Linked DNA regions of Homo sapiens. The gene in region 1 interacts genetically with each later gene. Each region holds a gene or a part of one and is shown in the gene's direction. Other genes may lie near its edges.

Evidence for each region. Genes that interact genetically often act in the same process or in processes that back each other up.
Region 2: of NCAPG2 (region 1) and TOP1, changing one suppresses a phenotype caused by changing the other (phenotypic suppression), as found in Homo sapiens cells (one study listed by BioGRID).
Region 3: of NCAPG2 (region 1) and SMARCAL1, changing one suppresses a phenotype caused by changing the other (phenotypic suppression), as found in Homo sapiens cells (one study listed by BioGRID).

Annotation. Positions count from the first base shown.
Region 1 is NC_000007.14:158,701,790-158,708,820, reverse strand, and holds the start of NCAPG2 (condensin-2 complex subunit G2), read left to right. Parts: upstream 1-4,016; 5' UTR 4,017-4,097; intron 4,098-5,118; exon of another isoform or gene 5,119-6,573; intron 6,574-6,882; 5' UTR 6,883-6,921; coding exon 6,922-6,999; intron 7,000-7,031. UniProt on the Homo sapiens protein: Regulatory subunit of the condensin-2 complex, a complex which establishes mitotic chromosome architecture and is involved in physical rigidity of the chromatid axis.
Region 2 is NC_000020.11:41,024,273-41,031,848, forward strand, and holds the start of TOP1 (DNA topoisomerase 1), read left to right. Parts: upstream 1-4,549; 5' UTR 4,550-4,795; coding exon 4,796-4,828; intron 4,829-5,158; coding exon 5,159-5,183; intron 5,184-7,576. UniProt on the Homo sapiens protein: Releases the supercoiling and torsional tension of DNA introduced during the DNA replication and transcription by transiently cleaving and rejoining one strand of the DNA duplex.
Region 3 is NC_000002.12:216,478,484-216,483,580, forward strand, and holds the end of SMARCAL1 (SWI/SNF-related matrix-associated actin-dependent regulator of chromatin subfamily A-like protein 1), read left to right. Parts: intron 1-4,254; coding exon 4,255-4,494; 3' UTR 4,495-4,570; downstream 4,571-5,097. UniProt on the Homo sapiens protein: ATP-dependent annealing helicase that binds selectively to fork DNA relative to ssDNA or dsDNA and catalyzes the rewinding of the stably unwound DNA. Rewinds single-stranded DNA bubbles that are stably bound by replication protein A (RPA).

The DNA of each region.
Region 1 (7,031 bases):
GGCTCACGCCTGTAATCCCAGTACTTTGGGAGGGTGAGGCGGGCGGATCACGAGGTCAGGAGATCGAGACCATCCTGGCTAACACGGTGAAACCCCATCTCTACTAAACAAAATACAAATAATAATAATAATAATAATAATAATAATAATAATAATAATTAGCCAGGCGTGGTGGCGGGCACCTGTAGTCCCATATACTCGGGAGGCTGAGGCAGGAGAATGGCGTGAACCTGGGAGGCAGAGCTTGCAGTGAGCCGAGATAGCACCACTGTACTCCAGCCTGGGCAACAGAGCGAGACTATGTCTCAAAAAAAAAAAAAAGATATTATATTTTTATCAAAGATATTTTTGCCAAGTTTTATACCCTTTGAAACTTAGTTTTATATTGCCTTGCCATGTGGTCCACCTTTAATTCTATAAACCTTTTCTAATTTACCACATTGTAAGATTTTAAGAACACAGATGATCTCATGCCTCATTCATTCATTTATTCAGAAAATATTTTCTTCAAGCATCTAAAATGTGCCAGGCCTTACGCCACGGATATAGGACTAAGGATGACACAGTGCTTGACATGGAGGAGATGATGAGGCCTGTGGTAGGGGGCTAAGAGATTGCATTACAGTGAGGGTTATGGGGTTCAGGAAATAAACCCCTATAGAAGGTAAAGCTTGAGCTGAGTTCTGGAGGAGTGTCATCTATTTGCGGGGAAGGTCACATTCCCAGTGAACGGTGATGGCAGCGGGAGGCAGACAGGTTCCTGGGTGGGAAGGGGCAGGTCCCTGGTGAAACCCCACTTTCAAGCCAGGGACAGCCTGAAGTTCCTGGGCCAGGATGCCAGTTCCTGGTGAAGTCCGAGATCCAGAAAGAGAACTTACTTGATGCCTTTCAGCCAATCAAGTAGTGCTTTTTCCAGGCCTGCCCATGGGCCAATCAGCACACACTTCCTCCTGTCTATGGACCAATCAACATGTACTTCCTCCATTCTGAGCCCATACGTGCCTGTGGATAGGAGCTACCCACTTCGAGTCTCCTCTCCACTGAGAGCTATTTGGTCAGCTGTTCTCTGCCTTGCTCACCCTCCAGATGTCTGCCAAACCTCATTCTTCCTGGACATGGGACAAGAACTTGGAACCTGCTGAATGGTGAGAGCAAAACGAGCTGTAATACTTTCCTGGCCAGCTTGCCAAGTTGCAGGTGGGAGCCAAAGTGGCTGTAACGGGTTCCTGGCCGGGTCGCTGAGCTGCGGGTGGTGACACGCTCCCAGACTGAGGGAGTGAAGAGTGGTGACCCTTGTAGAGGCCCAGGCCTTGGGATTCCCCAAGCCAGAGCTATAATGCTATAGCCCTCCCACCCTCTGCTGGCGCCCAGTGGCCACCCCATGCAGTGGGAAGCAGCGGTGGGGCCGGGACAGCCAAGGAGCCGTGGACCGGTGTGGGGCGGCAGGACCAAAAGACCTGTAACACAAATGAGGTGAAACATGCCGCCCCGGAAACACGACCCCCTGCTAGCCACGCTGTGGGTGATGAGAAGGACAGAAGAGCTGTGGCCCTTCTGGGAGCCCAGACCTCGGGGCTCCCCGAGCCAGGGCTGTGACACAGTGTAACCCCCCTTTGGGGCTCTGTGGCTCCTGGCATCTGTGAGCTTTCGGGTGCCACCATGTTCCCCTTGTCCAGATGCTGATGCCTGCAGTGGAAGCCACTTGTGGTACCTCTGGTCCAGCCACAGCCTTGCATGGAGCCGGCAGCTGTGCAGGCACCTAGAGCTGCCTGCTCCACCACAGCAGCTGCATGGCTGGGTGTGCGCAGTGGTTGGACCCCATGCTCGCTTGCTCACATACCCCTTGCCGCTCTGCACCTGGCTCACCCTTGGCAGGCGTGGGATCTGGGTTGGTAGTGCAAGCCGAGTGCAACCTGCTGGGCTGAGTGGGCTCGAGCAAAACTCTAGCAGAGGCACCGCTGGCCACGGAGGTTTCTAGCTGGTGAAGCGATACCCAAAGGATCCTATGACATTAGTGGCTGCATGGGCAGGTGCATTGGGGGTGCACTGGGCGCTCCTGCTGCCCTGCTTCCACGTGCCTCTGAGCACTGCACTACATAGACATTTAGGCCTCATAACAACCCCCTAGAGGAGGCTGAGCTCTGCATTATACAGACATTTAGGCCTCATAACAACCCCCTAGAGGAGGCTCAGTACTTAAGTAGGTCCCATTTGATAGATGAGGAAACTGAGGCTCAGTCGTCCATGGCTTGTCAAAGGTCACCAGCTAGTGAGCACAGAACCAGGTTAGCCCAGGTGGTACAGCTTCAGAGCTCACATGCGTAACTTGTTACATTATTCCTACTCAGGAAGTGGAAACCCCAGGAACAGATGGCTGATTGGAGGAGGGACCAGCATAAGGAAAGGGGCAGGATTCAGGGGTGGGAGGGGAAGTCGATATCTGTTTTGGATGCATGTCAGCACCAGCGTGGGAGTAGGCAGTGAGCTGTTGAAAATTCTGGAGTTCAGAAATAACCGTGTCTTGCAAATCCAGATGCAGAGGTCACTGCTTGAAGGTGGCAGTTTGCACCTTGGATATGAAGGAAATTGCTAAGAAGAAAGCAGTGAGAAGATGAGGGCACCAAAATTCAAGAAATGGCAGGGAAGGATCTGTGTATGGAGGGAGGAGGAGGTCAGAGGTGGCTGGAGCCCCAGGATGAAATAGGCAATGTTAGATATCGGCCACCTGTTGACAAGGGTCCCAGACTCAGCATCCTCTGAGTGGGTCTTCTCCCTCCCCTCTGCAGCCTGCCTTGCTTCACTGTTGCAAGCTTCCTAGTAAACCAGTCTTCTCCCTGCTATAATTTTATATTGCTTGTTGAAACGATATTCCAACAAGTAACATAAATATTTTTGATATACTAGGCTAAATAAAACATATTTAAAAATTAATGTCACCTATTTATCTTCATTTTTCTAATGTGGTCACTAGAAATTTACAAGTGCACTTGTGGCTCCCATGATGTTCCTATTGGTTGGTGCTGTGCTCCCACAGTGCAACGACTTCAATCTCGCCAAGACCTCTGGCTTGAGTTAAGCCAGGAAAACAGATACCACTCTAGACATCTCAAGCATGAAAGAATATAGCTCCAGGGAAGGCCAAGTCCTCACGAAGGGATGCAGAGCTCGGTGGTAAAGAGCACCGTTTTCTAAGAATTTGCTTTCAACAAAAATTGGGAACGCCCAATCAAGTTATTCGCTGACACAAATTAAAAGAGATTGATACATCAGTATGTGATTTTGGCATTTAAGTCCAAAGAATTGAATGACATTGCTACTCCTCCTTCACACGGGTGCCTCCGAGGGTCCCCGCTAAGGCCTCTCCCTCTCCACCCTATGGGCAGCTGACCTGCCGGGGGCCTCACCTGCTGGAGGAGCAACTGCAGGAGAAGCACCTGTTAGGGGCCGCACCTGGCCGGAGGGGCTCCTGCGGGGGAAGCACCTGCCCAGGGTGCACCTACCGTGTGCAGGCTGCGGACCACCCGGACAGGTGCCCCCTCGGCAGGGAGGGCGGTCACGGGGGCCGGCCAGGTCGGGGTGGGGTCCTCCCGGGGATCCAGACACGGCCCTGTGGCCTCTCCCCGCCCCAAGCCTTTCCTTTCTCTCCCCCTCTCTCTCTTCCTCTCCTTCCTCCTTCCCACAACACCGCCCGCTCGCAGCGCCCCGCCCTCTCCTGGACCGCGCACTCCCTCCGCGGAGGCCCCAGGACGCGCACGAGCGCGCAGTGGACGTCGGCGCGCGGACCGGGCATGGGTTCCCCAGCTGTGGCGCCCCGCGTGCGCGTTCCGTAGTGCCCGGTAGGGCACTGGGCTTAGCTGCTCGAGGCCGCGCCCTAAGAGGCGGGGCATAGACAGGAAGAAGACTGGCGGGCATGTGGGCGGGGCATGATCTGGAGGCGGGGCGGGCCGGGCGTGTGGGCGAGGCCCGAGGCTCGCGGCGCCCCAGCTCTCGCGAGAGCGGCGCCTGATGACGACCGGGAGGGCGGGGCCCGTCTGGGGCGCCGGCGGGTGCGTTTGAATCTGGTCCGAGCGCGGGAAACGGCGGGTCCCCGAGCCCAGGTAAGAGCTGCGGTGCCGAGCCGGGATTGGGTTCAGAGCAGGGGCTGGGAAGTAGCAGGGATCGGGCGGGAAGCCCCTCCTCGGCTGGTCGGGGTCCCAGCCTCCCCTCCCCTAAGGAGGCGGCCGACCTGCGTGCGGGCAGTGCTGCCTCTGACGGAACTGGACGGAACTGGCGACCCCGGGCCATCCCCCCTACCCAGCTCAGCGACGCCCGTCCTTCTTGTCCGTGTCGGAGGAAAATCCCAGCCCCGGGCGCGGGCACTGCCCTCAGAGAGCGACCCCCCAGCCCTGAGCATGGGCACCGTCCTCAGAGAGTGTCCCCTCAGTCCTGGGCATGGGCACTGCCCTCAGAGAGCGACCTCCTCTGTCCTGGGCATGGGAACTGCCCTCAGAGAGTGTCCCCTCAGTCCTGGGCATGGGCACTACCCTCAGAGAGCGACCCCCTCAGTCCTGAGCATGGGCACTGCCCTCAGAGAGCGTCCCCTCAGTCCTGGGCATGGGCACTACCCTCAGAGAGCGACCCCCTCAGTCCTGAGCATGGGCACTGCCCTCAGAGAGCGACCCCCTCAGTCCTGGGCATGGGCACTGCCCTCAGAGAGCGTCCCCTCAGTCCTGGGCATGGGCACTACCCTCAGAGAGCGACCCCCTCAGTCCTGAGCATGGGCACTGCCCTCAGAGAGCGTCCCCTCAGTCCTGGGCATGGGCACTGCCCTCAGAGAGCGACCCCCTCTGTCCTGGGCATGGGAACTGCCCTCAGAGAGAGTCCCCTCAGTCCTGGGTGTCGGTACTGCCCTTAGAGAGAGTCCCCCTGAGCCCTGGGTGTAGGCACTGCCCTCAGAGAGTATCTCCCCAGCTGTGGACGTGGGCATTGTCCTCAGAGACATCAGTCTCCTGAACTCTTGTTGCTGGTTTGGTGCCTCTTGTTGTGTCCATGAGGAAGGAGTTTGGGGACGGAGTGGGAAGTCACAGGTGGTGAGAAGGTAACAGGGATTTCTTCTTTTTAATGCTCATCTTGATTTAGTACCAGACCTCCTGTGCGAAGAGTAACCTGCTCTTCGGACTGATAACTGGATGGTGAGATGACTCCTTACCTTGAAAGTAGCATTCTGGCTGCAGGGCTGAGGTCTTATGCACATATGGTACAAGAAACATGGAATATTGCCACTTTGGGAGATAGATTGAAAAATTAACCATTAAAAAATTACAGTCACTAATATAAGAGGGAAAATGGGAAATATAGGAATAAGTTTGGTAGTCTAGAGGAAGTGTATTACTGTAAGTTGGACTAACATGCCAAAGAGGTACACTTGGAAATAGAGCAAACAAGAAAAGTGACCAGAACTATGAAAAAGTGGAGAGTGTTCACAGACTTGCCGGGCGAAGATGTATGATTCCATGTGTTTGCTGCACCTTATTGGATTATTTTTCTAAAATCATGAATTTGTCCTAGCCACTATTCATTATGCTTGTTACTGGCCACTCTCCCTTCCCTCCCCATTTTCTTTGTCAGTGAAAAATGTGCCAGTCATGCTTGATTTAAAGAGGGAGACACGTTGTCGTTAGGCAATTTCATCATTGCATGAACATCACAGAGTGGACTTGCCTACACCTAGAGGTGTAGCCTACACACATAGGCTGTATGGTGTAGCCTACTGCTCCTAGAATGTTACTGTACTGAATACTGTAGGCAACTGTAATACAATGGCAAGTATTTGCATCGCTAAACATATCTAAGCATAGAAAAAGCACAGTAAAAATATGGCATTATAATCTTATGGGACCACGGTCATACATGTGGTCTGTTGTTGACTGAAATGTTATGTGGTCCATGACCGTAGTTCATAGTTCAGCCATTTGAGTTGAGGAATGAGATGACCAGACTTCACTGTTAACTTATTTCGGGAGTCATTAAACTGAGGTTATTTTTGCTTTGTTCAATTTGGACATTAAAATCTAGTATTATATGTTTAAGATGACTCTCTGTCCCCATAATTATTGGCAATAATTTTCCATATTGCTCTATTTATAATGGTGCAGGTGGTTTTCATTTATTTTTAAAGTGAGGGGGCTCCTACTGCAAATGTGTTCCATCATTTGCTATTACCTCATCTTTAGGTTGATGTTTTTTCAGTAGGGCACCAGTAGCACCAGGTATTGTGAATGCGAAATAGAATTTCCTGGAAAAACACAGGCAGGATGGAGGGTATACAAAGTCCCCTGAGCTCTCATTATCCCGAAGGGGTGGGAGGAGGGTGCTGTGGTTGAGCATGCCTAATGCATAGTCTAACAAGATCCCAGGTGACCCCCGGGGCCACTGTTTTCCATCTCACTTTGAATAACAAGATGACACTAACAGTGGGATTTTTTTGATGGAGGAATGGCCTTTAGAAAGGGAGCATCTTCAGAATCTGCAGCTGGGATCAGATTGTTCTTTTGTTGAATCAACTCAGCTCTGCCGAGCCAGCATCTTGCTAAGGTACTAAAAAGGGAGAGATGGTGGTGAGCTTCCTAAGGCTATTTGGATTTCTCCCTCCTTAGTTGGTAATTTTATTAACAATTGTTGATAAAATATCATTAATATCATGTTATTCACATCCCCAGTAAAGGAAATAAGTAAATTGTTTTTCAGATATTATAGCGTGTTTTATGTCAGAATGTTTTTAGAAACTGTCTGCCATACGTGGTTGAGGAATTTTCTTGCAGTTCTTGGATGTTAATATCAAATTAAATCTTACAGGAAAAGATATATTTGCAAGTGTTTCAGTATGATTGTGTTTTCCATTAGGGTTACAAAATAAATGCCATTTGAACAGTGCCATCTGTCATGGAAAAACGTGAGACGTTTGTACAAGCCGTGTCTAAGGAGCTGGTTGGAGAGTTTTTGCAATTTGTTCAACTTGATGTAAGTTTCATGTTTTAGTTTTGTTGTGATTT
Region 2 (7,576 bases), on another chromosome or scaffold:
TCCTCTATCTGAGGATAATATAATAAATAGATTTTTGGAGCAAGGAGATGGAATAGGAGCTTGCTCTGTCCACTCTACACATTGGCCTGGATTGCAGTACCTCCAGGAATGGTGCACCCTCTCTACCACCCCCAAAAAGCCCAAGTCTCAAGAGGTAGTCTGGAAAAAAGTGTTTTTGGATTTACCTACATTTTTTTTTCCAAGATGGAGTCTCGCTCTGTCACCCAGGCTGGAGTGCAGTGGCGCCATCTTGGCTCACTGTAACCTCTGCCTCCAGGATTCAAGCAGTTCTCCTGCCTCAGTCTCCCAAGTAGCTGGGATTACAGGTGTGTGCCAACCATGCTCAGCTAATTTTTCTATTTTTAGTAGAGACAGGGTTTCACCATGTTGGCCAGGCAGGTCTCAAAGTCCTGACCTCAGGTGATCTGCCTGCCTTGGCCTCCCGAAGTGCTAAGATTACAGGCGTGAGCCACTGCGCCCGGCCTAATTTTTGTAATTTTAGTAGAGACGAGTTTTCACCATGTTGACCAGGCTGGTCTCGAACTCCTGACCTCAGGTGATCCACCCCCGCCCTCGGCCTCCCAAAGTGCTGGCACTACAGGCATGAGCCACCGCTCCTGGCCGGGTTTGCCTACATTTTGGAGATGCTGCACACCATGTCCCTCTTTTCAAGAGTCACGTAAGTATTTACATATGGAAGACCCTGAGAAGGCACCTGGGAAAAAACCTGTTTAACTGTAAATATAATAATGTATGTATTTGTATGTGGAGCTCTTCTTTTAGTGGATTATCTATAAACCGTCCACTGTTCCCAATGCATACTTTGGAGACAGACCTACACTACCAGTTTTCACCTGCTAGTTATTTTTATAAGGGTTGGGATGGTCCATGAGTGAACAGTCTTGATTTAAAGCAGTGTTTCCCAAACCTCATTTATTTGCCTATAGCCTTCCTGGAGTTTGTCTTATATGTCCGCTCTGTGCACTATTCCTATATGTTTTTATGTAAATCAATCACTTTTTTAAAAAGCCTCATCCCAGTTATATCCTTAAAACAATGGTTATTTTTTCTCATACACATCGAAATACATATCTATTAGAATTAAAATGCTTGTCCATGCACTATCAATAATCTCCTCAAGTACCATATGGTGGGGACATGTGTTTGAAGTGTTAGGAGTCAGGAGTGGTCTCTGTAAGACAGAGTAAGTCAGTCAACCTCTGAGCACTGCCAGCCACACATGCTGGCAGAGAAGTTCAGCCTGTGACAAGACTGCCCGGATATTTCCATGTCTGTGCACGGGGATGTCCTCGGTCTGCCATTGTGAAGTCTGTGCTGTTTTCATGCCTACCTAGTCTTCTTTGGAGGGGCCTGGAAAGCAAATGCAGGCTGGGTACAGTGGCTCATGCCTGTAATCCCAGCACTTTGGGAGGCAAAGGTGGGCAGATCACGAGGTCAGGAGTTTGAGACCAGCCTGACCAACATAGTGAAACCTTGTCTCTACTAAAATTGCAAAAATTAGCTGGGTGTGGTGGTACGTGGCTGTAATCCCAGCTACCCGGGAGGCTGAGGCAGGATAATTGCTTGAACCCAGGAGGCGGAGGTTGCAGTAAGCCCAGATGGCACCACTGCACTCCAGCCTGGGTGACAGAGACTCCATCTCAAAAAAAAAAAAAAAAAGAAAAAAAAGCAAATGCAGATTCTCCCTGGGAAACGGGGGGTTGGGAGAGTGGAGTAGTGTGGATGCATTGTTATTCCTGAAGGCCGTCCTCAAATTATCTTGGACTCACTGCAGCAAGCAGATGCCTCATCTTCTGGCCAGGGATTGATCCTGAGATGGGAAGAGTATGAGAAGAGACACCAACAGCAAGGCAAAACTGGCTCTGGCAGCTTGCTTCAGAGAAAGAGTATAGCTTTGGAGTCAGGCCGACCTGAGTATGAATCCAAGACTCAGCACTTACTAGGTGCCTGCCCTCAAACCATTATTTTTTGATAGTCATTACATACCCACAATGATCACCATGGAGTGGATGAGGAAACAGGGACTCAGAGAAGTTAAACAACTTGCCTGATATCACACAGGTAACAAACAGCAGAGCAGAATTCAAACCTAAGTTGATTTGACTTCCAAATGTGTGCTCCTAACCAAAGCAGGGTAACCTGCTTTGATTTGCCCATTTCTTGAGCACCTCTTCTGTAGGAGGGCCTGTTGCTGGGTGCTGGGAATTCAGTGGTAGGCAAGATGGACAAGATTCCCCCCTCTCACAGACCTTGCTTGCTATAGGGGAAATAGACAGGAAACCAATTACTACATTTGTAACTTAATAACAAGTGTCATAAGTGTTACAAAGGAGATAGATACTATAAGGCACCTTTTATTTTTATTTGTTTATTTATTTTTTGAGACTCACTCGCTCTGTTGCCCAGGCTGGGGTACAGTGGTGCGGTCTCGGCTCACTGCAACCTCTGCCTCCCAGGTTCAAGCGATTCTCCTGCCTCAGCCTCCCGAGTAGCTGGGATTACAGGTGTGAACCACCACACTCTGCTAATTTTTGTATTTTTAGTAGAGACAGGGTTTCACCATGTTGGCCAGGCTGTTGTTGAACTCCTGACCTCAAGTGATTGATCCACATTGACCTCCCAAAGTGCTGTGATTACAGGCGTTAGCCACCGCGCCTGGCCTATAAGGCACCCTTGGTCAGCCAGTGGAAGCAGGGTCAGTAGTGCGCCGGAGAGTCACTTTGAAAAAGTGATATTTAGGTTGATCTTGAAGCATTCACAAGATGTGGTAAACACATCTAATGGTAAACATGTGATGGTAAACATTAGATGTGATAAAGATACTGATGGTCCACTGGATGAACAGTTTTCATATTTACTTCCAAATGATTTCATAGATATTATTTCACAGATAACACTTAGGATGAAGGTAAATAAAAAGGAGATCAATTAAAATATGAAATAATAATAGTGAAAGTGGTAATAGATGTGGCAATATCCACAAAGGAGTAATGGTTAGATTAGCATATTGAGAAGATCACTTTGGCAATTGTTGGAATGCAGTTTACGAGAGGGCCAAGAATGGAAGCAGCAATCCCTGTTAGAAGTGTAGTGTTTTGGAGTGCGGTGTTTTTTGTTGGTTTGTTTTTTGTTTTTTTTAAACCAGGTCTCACTCTGTTGCCCAGGCTGGAGTGCAGTGCAGCCTCGACCTCCTCCTCGGGCTCAGGTGATCCTCCCACCTCAGCCTCCCGAGTAGCCGGGACTACAGGCACATGCCACCACACCCCGCCAGTTTTTGTATTTTTTTGTAGAGTCAGGGTTCTGCCATGTTGCCCAGGCTGGTCTTGAACTCCTGGGTTCAAGTGATCTGCCAGCCTCGGCCTCCCAAAGTGCTAAGATTACAAGTGTGAGACACCACCCCCAGCCAGCACATTGTATTAATCCAAGCAGGAGAACGCAGACTTCAAAGGCTTATGGGCAGCAGAGAGAAGTAGATGAAGCAAAGAGATGCAATCAGCGGGACTAGTGGGAAATGAGGGAAAGGAAGGTGTCAGGATGGGGCTTTTTCTAGCTGAGTGGAGTTCAGTTCATTCCCAGAGAAGCTTGAGAGGTATCCAACTATAGATGCAAGGTAGCTGGCTGTTGGTCCCTTGTCTTTAGGACAGTTTGACTTTTGTAATACAGGCGACCTCACAGAGCTATTGTGAGAATTCAGAGCTGGGCACAGAATAGATGCTCTATAAACGGTAGTTCTATTCCCCATTTGCCCCGTCCTCCCAGCATGCCAGGGATACAGGGGCGGATAGAGACAGGTTCAGTTCCCTTTGGTCTCTTGCATTCCCCCTTCCCTCAGCACAATTCCTGGGCTCATAGCGGATGCTCAATAAGTATTTGTAGAATGAACCAAAGAAATCAGACCCTTGGTGACCCAGGGCTACATGTACTCGGCGGAAAACTGGGGTTAAACCGGACCCTTGGTTGGTTGAAAAATTAAAATAATTTTTAAAAAGTGGGCGTGAAATAATCCAGAAGTTGGAGGGCCTGGACAAAGGCTGGGGAGGGGACTCCTCCCACCAGGCGGCCTCAGGGTCGGCTTAGCAAGAAAGGAGGCGCTGGGGAGACCTCTGGGGTCCCAGCTGCCAAGGTACTCGCCGCTCCAAGGAGATGCGGACGCCGGATACCAGCTCTGCCCAAGATTGCTGGGTCCCGCCGCGGCCTTTAAAGGCCCACCACGTGGCTGCGCGGCCAGCCCTGGTCCGGAGGCGGTGCCCGGGTGGCGCCTGCGCACTGCCTAGCAGAGGGGCTGGGGTTCCGAGAAAAAGCGTCTGGAGAGGAAGGGGAGGCTGCTTGGGGTGGGACGCCGTGGGAGGAGTCGGCTCCTTATGCAAATCACAGCGGAGCGCGCACGGTCCGGAGGCGGGGCTTGCGATGCAAAGACAGGTCCGTCTGGCGAACAGCGAGGGGGCGGGCCGCAACCCTCTGCCTCTTTCCGCGAGCGCTGACGTCGCCGACGTGTTGTTTAAAAGCGGCCGCGCAGGCGCAGTGAGCCCAAATGCGAACTTAGGCTGTTACACAACTGCTGGGGTCTGTTCTCGCCGCCCGCCCGGCAGTCAGGCAGCGTCGCCGCCGTGGTAGCAGCCTCAGCCGTTTCTGGAGTCTCGGGCCCACAGTCACCGCCGCTTACCTGCGCCTCCTCGAGCCTCCGGAGTCCCCGTCCGCCCGCACAGGCCGGTTCGCCGTCTGCGTCTCCCCCACGCCGCCTCGCCTGCCGCCGCGCTCGTCCCTCCGGGCCGACATGAGTGGGGACCACCTCCACAACGATTCCCAGGTACGGCCCGGCCTGACCCTGGCGGCCCCGGACCCCGGCCTGGCCGTCCCGCGACCCCCGGCGCAGGCCCCGACCCCAGCCCCGGCCCGGCAGCTTTGACAGGCCGGAGCCCCCGGTGAGGGGCCGCCTGCCGGAGTAGATCGGCTCGCTAGGCCGCGAGCGAGGGCCGCGAAGTTACAGTTCGAGGCAGGGATGGCTGCCCTCTGTGGCCACCCCCGGGTCCCCGTCCTCCCCGGGGGCGCAGGGTGAGCCAGACCCCGGCCGCGCGCGCTCGCCGCCGGAGGGGTTAAAGTGGCTGTTGTTTGATATTCTCTCCTTTTCTTTTTCCAGATCGAAGCGGATTTCCGATTGAATGGTGAGTGTGCCCCCTGCGCCGACTCCGGGGCCCCCCAGCCGCCGGCCGCCTCCCCCGCGCCCTGCCGGTGCCGGGCAGAGGACAGACATGGCGTCCCAGAGACTAAGTCCCGGCTCCTCGCTCACCGGCCCCATTGTTCCCATCGGGCCGCCTCTTGACCCCCTTTCCGGGGACCCCAGCTCCTCCAGATCCCGGCCCTCCCAAGAGGGGACAACGGAGACCCCGTGTCGTCCGCCACCGGGCCTCGGGCGGTCTTTCCGGGCCGGGATTCCTCCCGGGAAAGTCGCCTTGTCGACGGTCGGGACTTAGTCTCTGCGCCATTTTCTTTTTCTCTCTCCTCTCCTTTCTGTGCCTGTGTCTCTTTCTCTCCCTCCCTCGGCTCTTTCCTTGAGCTGCCCAGAATGAGCTTTCTGCAGAGCAAAGCCGTATAAATCACATACTTCACCAGAGAGGGAAGGCTGGGGGACTGAATTATTATTTTTTAAACTTTATTTTGGGGGTTATTCCCTTTATGCTTCATGTTTGTTTCCTTTTCTGCTTCCAGAATGAAAGATTTCCTTAAGCAACTGTTAATTTTTTTTTTGATAGGCTGTTTATGATAGGAATTATGGCTCTAAAACTAAAGCCACGCTTTGTGGAGTTCTTTATATTTCCAGGTTGTTTTTCCCAAGTTACGTTCTTTGCAAAGGTAGCAGTACCTCCCTAAAGAAAGTTTGCAAGTTCTCTGTGGGTCACCCAATGTAAATGTTGGATTTTTAAAAAATTATGTTAGTCACTGGAACTTTTCATTGTGGTCGAGGTTCCCAATGCAGTGTTTTTCTGGAAACGCAGTTTAGTGTACTTGTTGGAAGGAAAGATTGTTGAGCATCTCTTGTGGACCTGGTGTGTTGGCCTTTTCGTTTGGGTTGTAAGGAGGAAAAAAAGATTTTATTTATTGAAGCAAAGAGTGTCCAGTACCCACCCCTGCTTCCTGTTCATTCTTTTTCACGAGCCACTGTTTTTCAGGAATCAAGAACTGGCTTTTTTTTTTTTTCCCAATTCTTTATGTTTTTGAACCCTTTTCAGCCAAATCAAGGCATTTATTCTTACTGTATTTCCACTTCAGTTACCCAGGGAAGAGTCCTCCAATAAAAAGCTCATCCTTGCAGGCTTTCGAACAACCCTGTTGAAGGAGAAGTTACCTTCTGTAGTGTGCTGGGAATTCCCACTGATTTTGATGGTACATAATCCTGCTCAATTGAGTTTGGGTTCCGGGAACCTCTCCAATGGGAGAAGTTGATGAGTAGGTTTTCTAATGTTGTAATCAGCAGTCCATCATGTTAGCCTGCTCTACTGAGAGCAACCTTATGTTCAGAGTTTGAAGTGGGGCATCCAGCAGGAGATGGTACTCAGCCAGGAGAGAATCTGGTTTAAAGTATGGCATTTCTTGAGCACCAGATATGTGCCAACCACTGTGCTTGGTGCTAGAGCTGATCCTGTAACCATAACACTCCCTTGCTCTCAATTCAGTCTATTGGGGGAGACATAATTAGTTAATTATAAGGTAACTACTGGGGCATATGTGTACCCAAAATGCTTTGAAGTATAGGGGAGTTAATTTTGTCTGAGGGTGGGGAAATTTCTCAGAGGAGGTGACTTCTGAGCTGGGGGTTGTGGAAGACTGGGCGCAGAGAATTGTCAGGGGTTGGAGTGTTTCTTAAGTACGTTTAACCAACCTATCACGATTTTAAAAGAGGGAGGAGGTGAGGCCTGCAGTTTAGAAAGCCACAGTATAGACATGTTTCTTTGGGATACAGGAGCAAAGAAAGGATGTGCAGGTGAGGATGTAAGAAGTCCTTTTGACCTTGCTAGAGGAAGGTGGGATCTTTAATATGGAATGTGTTCTTTTGGCTGTCAGGCTGGGCTGAGTAGGTAATGTAAGTAATGAAACAAAGTTTAGCCCTTTCTTGTGAGAAAGTTAACTTACATGGTTCTCACCTAAGTCACGTGAATGATTGTGAGCTGGCTAGGTTATTGATCTTTACTGACATTTTTATAGAGGCTGAAGTAATCTGCGTATGTTGACTTTTAGAATGTGTTGGCTCACATTTAATAGCAATAATAGCTAATATTTATTGAATACTTACTGCCAGGCATGAATCTCAGCTCTTTCCATGGATCATCTAATTAAATGTAATCCTTGGAAGGACCCTTGTGAGTTAGGTCCTGTTATTTCTGTTTTGTAGATGAGGAAACTGAGGCTTCAGTGTATTTACTAGCTTGCCCAAGGGCTGTGAGTTGGCCACTCTAAATCCCATGAGCTGAGCCACTATGCTAGAGTGATACTATATGATACTAGCATGAAAAAATAAAAAGCCACAAATCTCTATTTTCTTACAGAGCTGAAAAAGGAG
Region 3 (5,097 bases), on another chromosome or scaffold:
GATGGCATTAGCTCCTACAGCTGCTGACATTCCCGCACAGGCTCTGAATGCTGCCTCTTCCAGCAGGCCATTAGAAACTGACAAAACTCCCCATGGCAAATGTTGAATTGTTTCAAAAAGTACACAGCAACACCACACATAGGGCTGCCACAGGAATGCATCCCCAGCACAGAATGGGGAGTGTTTAAAATAGGGTACTGGCTTCATAGAATATATTTTCCCTTCTGTCATTTTATTTATTCTCAGTGTCTCCCCACTTGATAGAGGGGTAAACTGAGACATGGCAGTATAGTAGGTTTGCACAAAGTCACAGGGCATGTGAAGCCAGCCCAAGGAAGAAGGCTTCCTGACTTGGCCCAGCATTCCTCCTTTGAGCTCAGCCCTTGTTGTAAAGGAGTATAAGAGGCATCCCTCCATGACCAGGCAGGCCTTGTCAAAGGTGCTGAGGGGGAAGGCTGTTGCCTCTGAACAGGACAGCCCTGGGCCCATCATGCCTGCCTGGTTTCAGTGCTGCAGCCCAGTGGCTGCCACAGACTCTTCCTCCCCCATTTCAGTGAAACACAGTGGAGTGAGCAAGAGACCCAGAGCCTTCCAAAAGCTTGTTTTCCTTCCCCAGCTTGGATTGTTGGCCAGAAGGTGAAAACCAGGAGTATGCCCTCCTCGAGCACAGCTCATGGTTGAATTGTTTCTGCCAGGAGAGTTTGAACCAGGTCTGAGCCTCATGCAGAAAGGGGCCTTACGGTAGCTTATCAGGAAAGTGAAGCACCTCCTCCTTCCTGTGAAATCACCATCAGAATATTGAGTTAGGCCACACATGGTGGTGCACACCTGTAGTCCCAGCTACTCCAGAGGAAAAGGTGAGGATCACTTGAGCCTAGGAGGTCAAGGCTGTAGTTAGCCATGATGGTCACTGTACTCTAAACTGGGCAACAGAGCAAGAGCCTGCCTCAAAAAAAAAAAAAGAGAAAGAAAAAAGTTTAAATAAATAAGAAGTTGAGTTAAATCTTATCGTTGACACCAAGACTTAAGACTCTGTGGATCTGCTCATTCACTTACATTTATTTAGCAAATAAATTCTTTCTTTGCAAGGATTTATTTGCTAAATATTGGGATAAATAAGACTCAGATCATATTTTTAAATGCAGACTGCAAATTATCCTTTCAGACATATATAGTTAATAAGCCAATTTTAAAACAACCTTATTTTTAAGCTTTTTAAAGAACTCTCCAGTTCAGCTGAATGGTAAATGGTAACAGAGCCTAGGTTATTACAAGCCTTTTGAAAAGAAATAGTCTGAGCAGGCATAGTGGCTCAAGCCTCTAATCCCACACTGAGGCGGACAGATGACTTGAGCCCAGGAGTTTGAGACCAGCCTGGGCAACATGGTGAAACCCCCATCTCTACAAAAAATACAAAAATTAGCCAGGCATGATGGCACATGCCTGTATTCCCAGCTACTCAGGAGACTGAGGCAGGAGGATTCCCTGAACCTGGGAGGCAGAGGTTGCAGTGGGCCAAGATCACACCACTGCATTTCAGCCTAGGCAACAGAGACAGACCTTGTCTCAAAAAAGAAAAAAAAGAAAGCCTATTTTTAAAGGATTCTCACTTGAACTCATTTATTCCTCCTTGCCTTTCTCTTACTCTAAATTGGTTAAGCATTTCTACCTAAAATATAAGTACAAGGTAATATAAATGAGTTTTATCAATATTTTGATCAATAACTATATCAATTTATTTTTTAATTAAGATGGGGCTGAAAATTTTATCAACTACTAGAAAAAGAAAATGTTGCTTCCAATATAGGAGACAAAAGCAGAAGAGGTTATATCTCACTGAGATAGCCTTCCTTCTGAGAGGGGAAATGAAATATTAATCTGATCTTGGAACTCGCTTCCAATTAATTATGCATGCCCCGAGTCAGCATACAGTGTTGCCATCATCATAATCAAATGCACATTAGCAGCTTTTTCTACTTGGAATAGGCTGCCTTGCAGGGTGGCGTTTCCTTGACATTGCAGTCATTCAGAAAGAGGCTGATGAGGGCATCCTGGAGGAGGACATGTGGGTTATTTGGGGGTCAGCCTTGATGATCTTTCATATCATTTCCCTCTCTGCAAGGCTGGGATCCTGAAAGGCTAGGAGATTTCGGGTGCAGGTTAATTGAATAATCTGGAGTTCTTACATGACAGGCTGTCATGATCAATTTTCAAGGAACTCTACTTCACCAATGTGGAGGGATTTGGTTAAGGAATAGTGAGGAACAGTGGCCAGGTACGTTGAGACCTAATTCTATAAAGGCCTGAAAAGCCAGGGGAGCAACTGTAGACTTGATGAGGTAGGGACAGCGGAGCCCAAAGACATGACCAAAAAAATCTTTAAAGGAGAGCCTGGGGGTAAAAATCAGCTGGCAAAGATCTGTAGGCTGTTTGAAATGGGAAGAAGCCTGAGGCAGGAAGCGCAGTTGAGCTGTTGCAAATCCATGCAGTACCAAGTGATGTGGCCCAAGTAAAGATGGTGCCTGAAGGAGAGAGGAGGGAACTAATGGGGGGAACAAACTTGCATAAGCCGAGGACTCTGTTTGCCTGGATGATTTCCACCTGGGAGACTACGAGAATGCAGGTAGACTATAAAAACTAGACTTATGGGAAGAGAAGCTGCTTTGAGAATATAGGAGATGAGAGATCATTTGATTTTTTATATTTATTTATTTATTTATTTATTTAGAGACAGGGTCTCACTCTGTCACCCAGGCTGGAGTACAGTGGCACTATGCTGGCTCACTGCAACCTCCGCCTCCCAGGCTCAAGTGATTCCCCCCATCTCAGCCTCCCGAGTAGCTGGAACTACAGGCGCATGCTGCCAACACCCGGCCAATTTTCTGTATTTTTGATAGAGATGGGGTTTTGCCATGTTGCCCAGGCTGGTCTCTAATTCCTGAGCTTAGATGATCCCCCCGCCTCGGCCTCCCAAAGTGCTGGGATTACAGGCGTGAGCCCTTGCAGCAGCCTTATTTTTATGTATTTATTTTTTTTTTGAGACAGAGTCTCACTCTGTCACCCAGGCTGGAGTGCAGTGGCGTGATGATGGCTCACTGCAACCTCTGCCTTGTGGGTTCAAGCGATTCTTGTGCCTCAGCCTCCCAAATAGCTGGGACTACAGGCACGCACCACCATGTCTGGCTAATTTTTTGTATTTTTAGTAGAGATGGGGTTTCACCACGTTGGCCAGGCTGGTCTCGAACTCCTGACCTCAGGCGATCCATCCGCCTCGGCCTCCTAAAGTGCTGGGATTACAGGTGAGAGCCACTGAGCCCAGCCAAAAGATCATTTGATTTTAAACCAGTTTAGTTTTATGAAACTGTGGGATGTCAGTGGAGATATGGAAAATATACCTCTAAATTGAAAAATGGTCAAAGTTGGAAATTTAGATGTAGGAAAAATCGGCAGAGGGGTGATAGTGATCGTGTGTTGTGGTTGTATCCACTGGGCATGGTTTTAACACTACACCATTGTCATCAATGTATAGATGCAGTTGGTGGGTATTTTGATTATTTGTAATTTAAGGTAATCAGAATAGGTACACATATCTACTTATGAATATGTTAAATGTGTGTATGTTTTTTCAACTACTTTGAAAATTAGGTATAAGCCATGGCTGAACACAGAGATTTGGAAGTTGGGGGGCTGGGCACATGGTGGCTCACACCTGTAATCCCAACATTTTGGGTAGCTGAGGTGGGCAGATCATTTGAGCTCAGGAGTTCGAGACCAGCCTGGGCAACATTTAGTGAGATCCCATCTCTTAAAAAATTATAAAAATAAAAATAAATTTAAAAATAGAGATTTAGAAGTTGAATTATACCTTAACTGACCCTTAGTAGAGAAAGGCTTTGGAGGAAGTGAGATCTTGGGTGCTATTTCAGTATTGAAATAATGATTTGGAAAGTTCAAAGGGAGAAAACATTTCCAATGTAAATTATAGCGTGAGAGCAGCTTCTTTGTTGCACTCACAACCATTTCTTTTTCCTAACTCAATGAGCACAGAGAGGGTAAGATGTCAGACACTAAAACAGTGAGGCTGCTTTAGTGATGGTTTGCTGAGATGATGCACACTTGCCATCGTGTAGCTCCCTGACACCATGAAATGTGTGGTCTCTCATCTTTATATTCTCTCATCAGCCCTAGTGGAGGAGAGTCAGTGTTGGAGCCTGGGCTCTTCCTTTTATCTTTTGTTTTCTTTCTCTGATGAAGGACCCAAAGCAGCAGAAGATCTACGACCTATTCCAGAAGTCCTTTGAGAAAGAAGGAAGTGATATGGAGCTCCTGGAAGCAGCAGAGTCCTTTGACCCAGGAAGTGCTTCAGGAACATCTGGAAGTAGTTCCCAGAACATGGGAGACACCCTGGATGAAAGCTCATTGACAGCCAGTCCACAGAAGAAAAGGAGATTTGAATTTTTTGATAACTGGGACAGCTTTACGTCTCCCCTGTAAAAGGGGCAAAAAGAAAAAAATAAAAAGCATTTTAAAATCATGGAATTGAAATAAAATAATGTATTTTGTTTTAAAACTTTTTGAGCTTCTCTTGCCATTGCAGCAGTGCCTATGCCTGTGTCCAGGCTCAGCAGGAGACCAGGCCGAGCATCAGCTTTCCATTCCTGTGTCATTACGTGTGGGCTTGCTTGGGGTCTTAACCTCCGCTCTTCTGGCTTAGGGATGGACACAGCGAGTTGTAGTAGTGGGTAATTCATGTTCTCTAAAGAATGAGGTCCTTCCTACACAGTCCCCATAATCTAGAATTTTAAAATTTAGTGACTCAACAAATATTTATAGGGCACCTAATTTGTGCAGGCACTGTCCTAGGTGTTGGTAGTCATTCATCCAACAAAAGACAAAAGCGTGAGCCTTTGCCGAACTTACGCAGCGGGAGAGGCAATGGTTGTAGGTTCTCTTTTCCAATATAACTCTTCATGGACACTGAAATTTGAATTTTATTAATGTTCACGTATCACAAATTATTTTTTTTCTGCCATTTAAAAATGTGAAAACCATTCCTTGTTTACCAGCTGTACAGAAACAGACAGTGGGCTGGAAGTT